Regions from separate parts of the Homo sapiens genome. Here region 2 is linked to region 1. Evidence: fine-mapped expression QTL. Tissue or cell type: whole blood. Region 1 holds a variant in brackets; the other region holds the start of a gene. All regions are shown on one strand. Distances are from middle to middle. Region 1 has its middle 28 kb from the start of PLEKHM3. Region 2 holds the start of PLEKHM3 (pleckstrin homology domain containing M3).

Evidence for each region. PIP is the estimated chance that this variant, and not a neighbour inherited with it, causes the effect.
Region 2: it holds the start of PLEKHM3, and the variant in region 1 is fine-mapped to the expression of PLEKHM3 in whole blood (TOPMed, PIP 0.95).

Annotation. Positions count from the first base shown.
Region 1 is chr2:208,051,084-208,055,488 of GRCh38, reverse strand. It overlaps the pseudogene RNA5SP116. Among named protein-coding and RNA genes, the nearest start is that of PLEKHM3, 28 kb to the right of the region's middle. The variant T/A (reference allele first, on the strand shown) is at 1,989.
Region 2 is chr2:208,023,536-208,027,940 of GRCh38, reverse strand. It overlaps PLEKHM3 (pleckstrin homology domain containing M3), which reads left to right and starts at 2,414. Exons shown (of 8, transcript NM_001080475.3): 1 at 2,414-2,552.

The DNA.
Region 1 (4,405 bases):
GTGGTAGGCTCGAAGTATCCATTTAGTCACCCTAGTGTGTTATCCAAATATTTAGAAGGAGAAAAATTGTGGGAAAATAACCTTTAATTTTACAATTCTCCAAAGGAAACTGTTCAAAATTAAGAGGTCTAAGAAGCTAAGAATGAGTGTTAATCTATTTTTCTGTTTATTACCTATCACTTTGGATAATCTGGAAATAATTTTGACAGTGGGATAAAAGTTGAAGTTGGGGTAAGAGTCCAAATTTTCGCAAAGTAGCTTACATCAGAATAAAGTCGCTGTCAATTAGATTGCTTGCATATAGATATGCGAGCTGTTACCCCTATCCATTACATAATCTTACTCCAGCAGGGGCTGCCAAAAACCTGTAGGCAGGAAAGATTTACACTCAGTTCTTCATAAGTACCCAAAAGAAAAGAAATCACTTTAGAATGATTATATAAGTTAAAGAACATGGCCAAGTTTGTGCCTTGAACTTTTAGTCTATCAATTAGCAATAGTAATTGCATACTGCTGAGATGTTTTAGAGACTGAGATGGTGTTTTAAAAGTGTTTTGTGCTATTCAGAGGGAAATGCAATTTACGTCATATTTTAGAATGTGAATTATGAAGGAAATTGTCTCTTTTTCTTCCTTATTCCCCTCTTCCCCCTCCTCTACCTCCTTCTCCTCCTCCTCTTCCTTTTCCTCTTCAGATTTTCCCTCTTTGCCTACAACATTAAGAGAGACTATTCACATTATAAAGACATTGATTTCCTTAAATGATCTGTAAATTCAATGTATATGCCAAATAAAACACCAAGGTGATTTTTTTCAACCTGACAAAAATAACACTAAAGTTCTTCAAGACATATAAATGGGCAATTAGAAAAACTCTGAAAAACAAGAGTAGTGAGAGGGTAATTAATACAACTATACATTAAAATGTATCATGGAGTTATAATAATTAAAATATCTTATTCTAGAGAAGAAATAGAATAGCTAAATAGAATAGAATGGAATAGAAGAGAATCAACAGAAATAAACCCAAATACGTATACAGATTTAATGTGTGAAAAAGGTAGATGAGTCGAATTTATAGGGGAGGGATGGGAGAAGGGAAGATGTATTAATCAATAGACAGTGATGAGAAAACTGGCTAGGAATGGAAAATAAAATAAAATGGATTCTTTACCATGCTCTTTATATTCCCAAATTTCCAGAGGATTCAAAGATAGCAATATAATACATACTCTATGGCCATACCACTCTGAATGCCCCCAATCTTATCTGATCTCAGAAGCTAAGCAGGGTTAGGTCTGGGGGCCTGCTTAATACTTGGATGAGAGAAATGTAATATAAACAAGTAAGTGTATATATGTGTATATATATGTATATATACACACACACACATACACATGCATAAGTATATATATACACACACATATACTTATATGTATATATTATACTTGTTACATATACTGGTTTTGAACTACTATTATATATATTAGATTATATAGTTGGTGAATTTATATATAATCTGGAGTATGAAATATATGTTAATCTAGGAGTTGTATATAATCTAGGAGTTTTTAAAAAACTGGTGAATTTATATATAATTAGGAGTTTTGAGTGAATTTATTTATATATAATAAATATATAAATAAATAAATTTATTCATTTATTGGTGAGTTTATTTATATATAATCCAGGAGTTTAAAAATAATTTCTAGGCTGGGTGCTGTGGCCCACACCTGTAATCCCAGCACTTTGGGAGGTCAAGGTGGGAGGACTGCTAGAGCTCAGGAGTTGCAGACCAGCCAGGCATGGTGGTGCACACCTATAGTCCAAGCTACTTGGGAGGCTGAGGTGGGAGGATGGCTTAAACACAGGAAGTTGAGGCTGTAATGAGCTATAATTGTGCCACTGCACTCCAGCCTGGGCAACAGAGTGAGACCCTGTCTCAAAAAAGAAAAAAAGAAAAGAAAACGTAAAATAAAATAATAAGAT[T/A]TTTTCTTCATTTTTTTTGTTTTATTTTTTATACCCACACTACACAGATGTAATATAAAAAGACTTTCTAGGCAAGACACACAATTCTAAAGTCTTAAAGGAAGAGAAAAATGTGAATATATACAAAGTGGAAAAAATATTGCAACATTTGGCAAGCAAAGAAAATCATTAATATACAACTTCTTGTACAACTCAGTAAGTAAAAACAAATCAAAAAGAAAATGGTCAAATCTATTAAAATCTTTGTCTCATTCACAATTAAATAACTGCATATAAAAATAATGAGTATATCCATATAATGAAATATTATCTGGCAATAAAAAGCAGAATTATTAAATAACTGCCAAAAAGTATAAATAACCCAAATTCTCATCAACTGATGAATGGATAAACAAAATGTGCTGTATCTATACAAAAGACTGTTATTCAGCCATAAAAAGGAATGAAAAACTGACACGTGCTACAACATGGATGAGCCTTGAAGACGTTATGCTAAGTGAAAAATGCCACACACGAGAGCATATGTTTTATGATTCCAATGACATAAAATGCTCAGAATACGTAAATCCAGAGAGACAGAAAGTGGGTTCATGGTCGCCTAAGGCGTGAGGGGGTGGGACTAGAGGGAAAATGGTGAGTGACTGCTAATAGATACAGTTTTGGGGGGAGGTCATGAAAATTGATTGTGGTGATGCTTGCACAACTCTGTGAAATACTAAAACCATTGAATTGTGCACTTCAAATGGGTAAACTGCCTGGCATATGAATTATATCTTAATAAAGCTGTTATTTTTTAAAAGCTTATGTAAAAAAAAAACCAATGAGCGATTTGAATTTGTTTATCATATTACAAAGCTAGATAATAATAAATGTTGTTAAGAATACAGACACAGTCATTCTCATGCTGTATTGGTAGGAGTGCAAATTGGTACACTTTTTTGAGGACAATTTAGCAATATCCTTCAAAATTTAAATACACCACATCCTTTAATTCTGCAATTCAAAAAATTACCATATGGATATACTTGCAAAAACTTGCCAATATAGATGTACAAGTATATCGTTTATAATAGAAAAATCTGAAAATCTGGAGCTAGCCATTCTGGGGACTATTATGCAGCCTTTTATTTTTTATTTTATTTCTTTTCTCTTTTTTTTTTTTTTGAGACAGAGTCTCACTCTGTCACCCAGGCTGGAGTGCAATGGCGCAATCCTGGCTCACTGCAAACTTCGCCTCCTGAGTTCAAGCGATTCTCCTCTCTCAGCCTCCTGAGTAGCTGGGATTATAGGCACATGCCACCACACCCAGCTAATTTTTATATTTTTAGTAGAGACGAGGTTTCACCACGTTGGCTAGACTGGTCTCAAACTCCTGACCTCAAATGATACACCCGCCTCAGCCTGCCAGAGTGCTGGGATTACAGGCATGAGCCACATGCCCGGCTTTATACAGCCTTTTAAAAATATTATAGTTATATGGGCTGATATGAAAGGATCTCCAAGAAAACAATAAAAATAACAAATATTTACTGAGCTTTTGCTATGTGACAGGCACTCTTCTAAGTCCTTTACATTCAATAACTCACTTAATCTTCTTTGGAACCCTATATTTTTATATCATCACCCTCATTTTCTAGATGGTGACACTGAGAGGCACAAATAGGTTTAAGCGACCTGCCAGAGATTGCATGGTAACTTAGTGGTAGACACAGAATTCAAAACCACTTGAATAAATTTAAAAAGTATACATCTATATAAATATGGCTTCATAGTTATTTTTTTCTTTCTAGGAGCATACGTAAGTAACTGTTTGAAGAGAGAGGTACTGAACTGCCTCCTGATTGGTTACTAGGAGGCAAATCAACAAAAGCTACAAAATGAGGTGGGTTTTTTTGTTTGTTTGTTTGTTTTTTAATGGAGGGATGGGAGTGGAGGGAGTTGTTAGTGTTTACTTTGTATGTTTCATGGTCTAATGTCTCTGTTACTGACTGGAAGCAGATTGCTGAACCCATAATTTGATTTGCCTGACATTTTTAGATATGAAAATCAAAGGTCAACCTAACATATCTAAAACTGAATGACTAATTGTCCTTCTGATCTTTTACTTAAATGAAACAACCAGTTTACAGACCTAATTTTCCCTTCTTAAGATGTTAATTCTCCCTTCTTAGGGTGTCTAAGACCTGACCCTTCTTTTTCAGTATAACTACATTATGTCTAGACTACTCCAATCTAGCATTCAACATTGGTTTTATCCCATTACTTTCTTGCACAAAAGCCTTCAAACTCCCAGTATTAGTCTGTTCTCACTCTGCTATAAAGAAATACCCGAGACTGGGTAATTTATAAAGGAAAGAGGTTTAATTGACTCACAGTTCCACATTGCTAGGGAGGCCTCAGGAAACTTATAATCATGG
Region 2 (4,405 bases), 28 kb after region 1:
ATTTTTAACAGCATTCAAGAACCTTGACACTCAAAATGCAGCATCACTTAGGAGATCATGACTGTTGGAGAGGCCCCATCCCAGACTTACTGTATCAGATTCTGCATTTTGACAGAATTCTTACCCGTTAAAGTTTGAGAAACACCATCCTAGAAGATTCTGTTCCATGTGAATTTTGAGAACCACCAATCCAATGGAAGACTGATCTGTGTAGCACAATGTAATGGGTACATTTATAAAGGAACACATGAGATCCTCTAGGAGTGCATAAAAGGAGCAGGTTCCCCTATCAGGCAAGGTTTCCAGAAGAGGTGTGATGTCATCTGCTTTTTTTTTTTTTTTGAGACAGCGTCTCGCTCTTTTGCACAGGCTGGAGTGCACTGGCTCAATATCAGCTCACTGCAACCTGCGTCTCCTGAGTCCAAACGATTCTAGTGCCTCAGCCTCCTAAGTAGCTGGGATTACAGGTCGTGTGCCACCATGCCTGGCTAATTTTCGTTTTAGTAGAGACAGGGTTTCACTATGTTGCCCAGGCTGGTCTCGAACTGCTGGCCTCAATCAATCCACCCGCCTCGACCTCCCAAAGTGCTGGGATTACAGGCGTGCACCGCCATGCTCTGCTAATTTTTGTATTTTTAGTAGAGATGAGGTTTTATCATGTTGGTCAGTCTGGTCTCGAACCGCTGGCCTCCAGCGATCCACCCGCCTTGGCCTCCCTAAGTGCGTGGATTACAGGCACGAGCTACCACACCCGGCCTTTTTTTTTTTTTTTTTTAGAGTGAAAGTTTATTAAAAAGCTTTAGAGTAGTAATGAAGGGAAGGAAAAGAAGAAAAGAACACTTGGAAGAAGACCAAGCAAGTGACTTGAGAGACCAAGCACCTGTTACCTGCTTCTTAAAGAGCAAAGAGAAATTAGCCAGCCTAAGTAAGAGGATGGGCCAGGAGTGAGAACTCTCATCAGAGGGAATCACATGTACAAAGTCCTGAGGCAAAAGAGAATACTGCAAATATTCTCTTTTGGTAATTAAAACAAAACAAAACAAAAAATGTACCTCTGGCCAGGTGAGGTGGCTCACACCTGTAATCCCAGCACTTTGGAAGGCAAGGAAGAAGGATTGCCTGAGGCCAGGAGTTCAGGATCATCCTGGGCAACACAGGGAGACCTTGCCTTTACAAAAAAAAAAAAAAGAGAAAGAAAGAAAAAAGAAGTTAGCCACGTTGTGGTGATGCGTGCCTGTAGTCCTAGCTACTCAGGAGGCTGAGTTGGGGGGATCCCTTGAACCCAGGAGTTCAGGGCTGCAGTGAGCTATGATCGTGCGACTGCACTCTGGCCGGGGCACAGAGTGAGATCCTGTCTCTAGCAAAACAGAAAAAAAAGTACCTCAAATTGCAGGGTTTAAAGAAAGCTTATTTAAACTTTGAATATCAACCAAAGGAAATTTTTTCTTAACTCAAAGCTTAAAGATTTGCTTATTAATCTTCTGGAGGGTGGGAAGGTGGGAAGAGGAATCAGAGTTTTAGATTTCTGTTTCATCCCTGACCCCTTTGACCTTTTTTTTTTTTTATCATTCCTTTGTTCATTCATTTATTCAGATATATATACATTGGGCCTGTGCTAGGTGCCTACTAGATGGTGGTGAGTGAAACTGAAATAGTGCCTGCCCTCAGGGAGTTTATAGGTGAGATGGGTGAGCGTGGGAAAACCAATAAAACTGATAAATAAGTGTGTACTTATAAAGTGAGAAAATGGCTAAGAAGTGTGCTATGATGGAAAACAGACAGGAAACTGCAAGGAAGGTCTGTCCAATCAGACCAGCATATCCCTGCAAAGCGACCACAGTCACTGCAGGTGGGATGTGGGCGGTCTTACCAGGCAGTCCTGCCCGCGTGCACACACACGCACACCCTATTTTGCTGGGAATCCGCAAGTGGGGGTGAAGACCTCACCTCAAAACCACCCCTTTTCAACCTGCGTAGGAAAGGACAGTGAAAACGGATTTTCACTGCAGCCCCAAAACCGGAAATGAGAAGCAATCTCCAGAATAGTCCCACTTTTGGAAAGAACTTATTTGAGTAATTAATTCCCTTAGACAAGGGAGCTGCTAAAAACCAGCCCGATCCTGACATGTTCTAAGTGACATTTTCCAATCGCAAACACCCATTTTGGCGTTGGGTGGAGCAGTGAGGAGACTCCACGACACACGCCATTGCTTTCACAATGTGTACAAGAGGAACTGTATATAAGAAAGCAAAGAAATAAGGAGGCCTGGCGGGTGCGGTCAGGCCTTGCCTAGCTGCCGGGTCCCTCGGGCAGGAAAGACTCGTCCTCGCGGCCTGGAACCTTGTGTGTCCGGCTCTGGCTGCCCGGGCCGCCGGCGGAAGCATTTCAGAGTGGGACCGCGAGAAGCCGCTTGTAAACAGAGCCGGGCCGGGATGGTCAGCGCCCGGGCGGGCTGTCACCGTGAGGCGGGCGGCAGGCTGCGGGAGTCAAGCCCCTCCAGGAGCGGACTGAAGGCCCCGCAGGTGAATGGAGAGTAGCAGCCGGGGCCCAGGTGAGCATCCGTCTGCTTCTGTGCTGCCTGGCCGGCCAGTTTGGGGGATGGGGTGGGGACGACTGCATTGTAAATATCCGAGCAGCTCCCAGGGATAGCAGTGATTTTGCTGTTTCTTGCATGCTCAGGTTTTTATTACGTGCTGGAGATTGTACCACACTGCAATGGCTAATGGGTGAGGGGAGATTACATGATGCATTGTCTGCTTATTTTTGTGAATCAGGTATGTAATAGGAGGAGAAAGTAGTTGAAATAGTAGGTGATCTTGTTGAGTGCGTTATTAGTATCCCTGCCATCCCCGCCTGGGGATTATAAAACCAAACCCCAGCAGAGCTTTTAACCTACATCAGGCTGGGGCTTCCAGAAAACGATTGTTCTTTCTGTCGACTCTGTCCGTTTTTAATGTATAGTAAATGACACCACATGACTGATGACAAGCATGGTTTGGTCTTGTAGGAAAGAATTATTAAGCTAAAAAATCAAGATAAGAAAATCTCACACTCATCCCTTAAACAAAAATAAATTACTACTGAGATATATATTTGGATGACAAATTGAGACTGGTCTGGATGTATACCTTGCAAAGCAAGACAAATTTGAATTTACCAGGTTAAACTGAGATTGAGCCATGCTGTTGTAAACTTATTTAGAAGTTTATTTCTCTCTTCTTTTTTCTTCCTTGGAAGGGACCAGAGAGAAACAGCTGAATTTTTTTCTCTATATTTTAAGTAATCGTAGTGAGTTGTGATTTGTATTTATAAAGTATTTTATTATAAAATACTACATGTAAATTATAATTGGCATACTTAAAATACAAGGCAGTTTTTGACTGACTGACTTCAAGAAAATGCCTTAACAAAAGCTGGGCTATATATCTAGTCTCTAAAAATATCAGTAGACATTTGTAACCTTGGTCACATAGTCTTTTAGACAGGAGATGAATATTAGGTTAAATTGCACCTACAATAGATAGATATACATAGAAGAAATGATACTAATTCCTGATGAGTTTTTCTTTACAATGAATATTTTTACAATGTCATGGTTTATAGCAAAAACTATAAAGCCAGACTACTTCAGTTTGAATTCCTGCTTGGTCACTTCCTAGTTGTGTAATCTTGGGCAGTTTACTTAGCGCTTCTGTTTCCTAATCTGTAGAATGGGAATAATAATAGTATTGACCTCATTAGGGTTTTTATTATTGTTATTTTATTTTATTTTATTTTATTTTATTTTATTTTATTTTGAGACAGGGTCTTACTCTGTCATTCGGGCTGGAGTACAGTGGCGTGATCATGGCTCACTGCAGTCTCGACTTCCTGGACTCAAGCGATCCTTCCACCTCAGCCTCCCTTGTGGCTGGAACCATAGGCACAAGCCACCACGCCTGGCTAATTTTTGTACATTTGGTAGAGACAGGGTTTCGCCATGTTGCCCAGGCTGGTCTTGAACTCCTGAGCTCAAGGCTTAGAACCGTACCTGGCATATAGTAATTGCTATATACATGTTTGTTAATAAATATATAAAATAAAAATATGCCAGTGTTGAAAGTGGAATGGTGATTACCAGGGCCTGGAGGGAGGCAGGCAATGGGGATTTGTTGTTTAATGCTGCGGTCCCCTGGTGGTTTTTGGCACCAGGGACCGGAAGACCATTTTTCCACAGAGCGGGTGGTGTGGGGTCGGGGAGTAGGGGGGTGATAGTTACGGGATGAAACTGTTCCACCTCAGATCATTAGGCATTAGTTAGATTCTCATAAGGAGCGTGCAACCTAGATCCCTCGCACGCACAGTTCACAATAAGGTTTGCGCTCCTATGAGAATCTAATGCTGCTGCCGATCTGACAGGAGGCG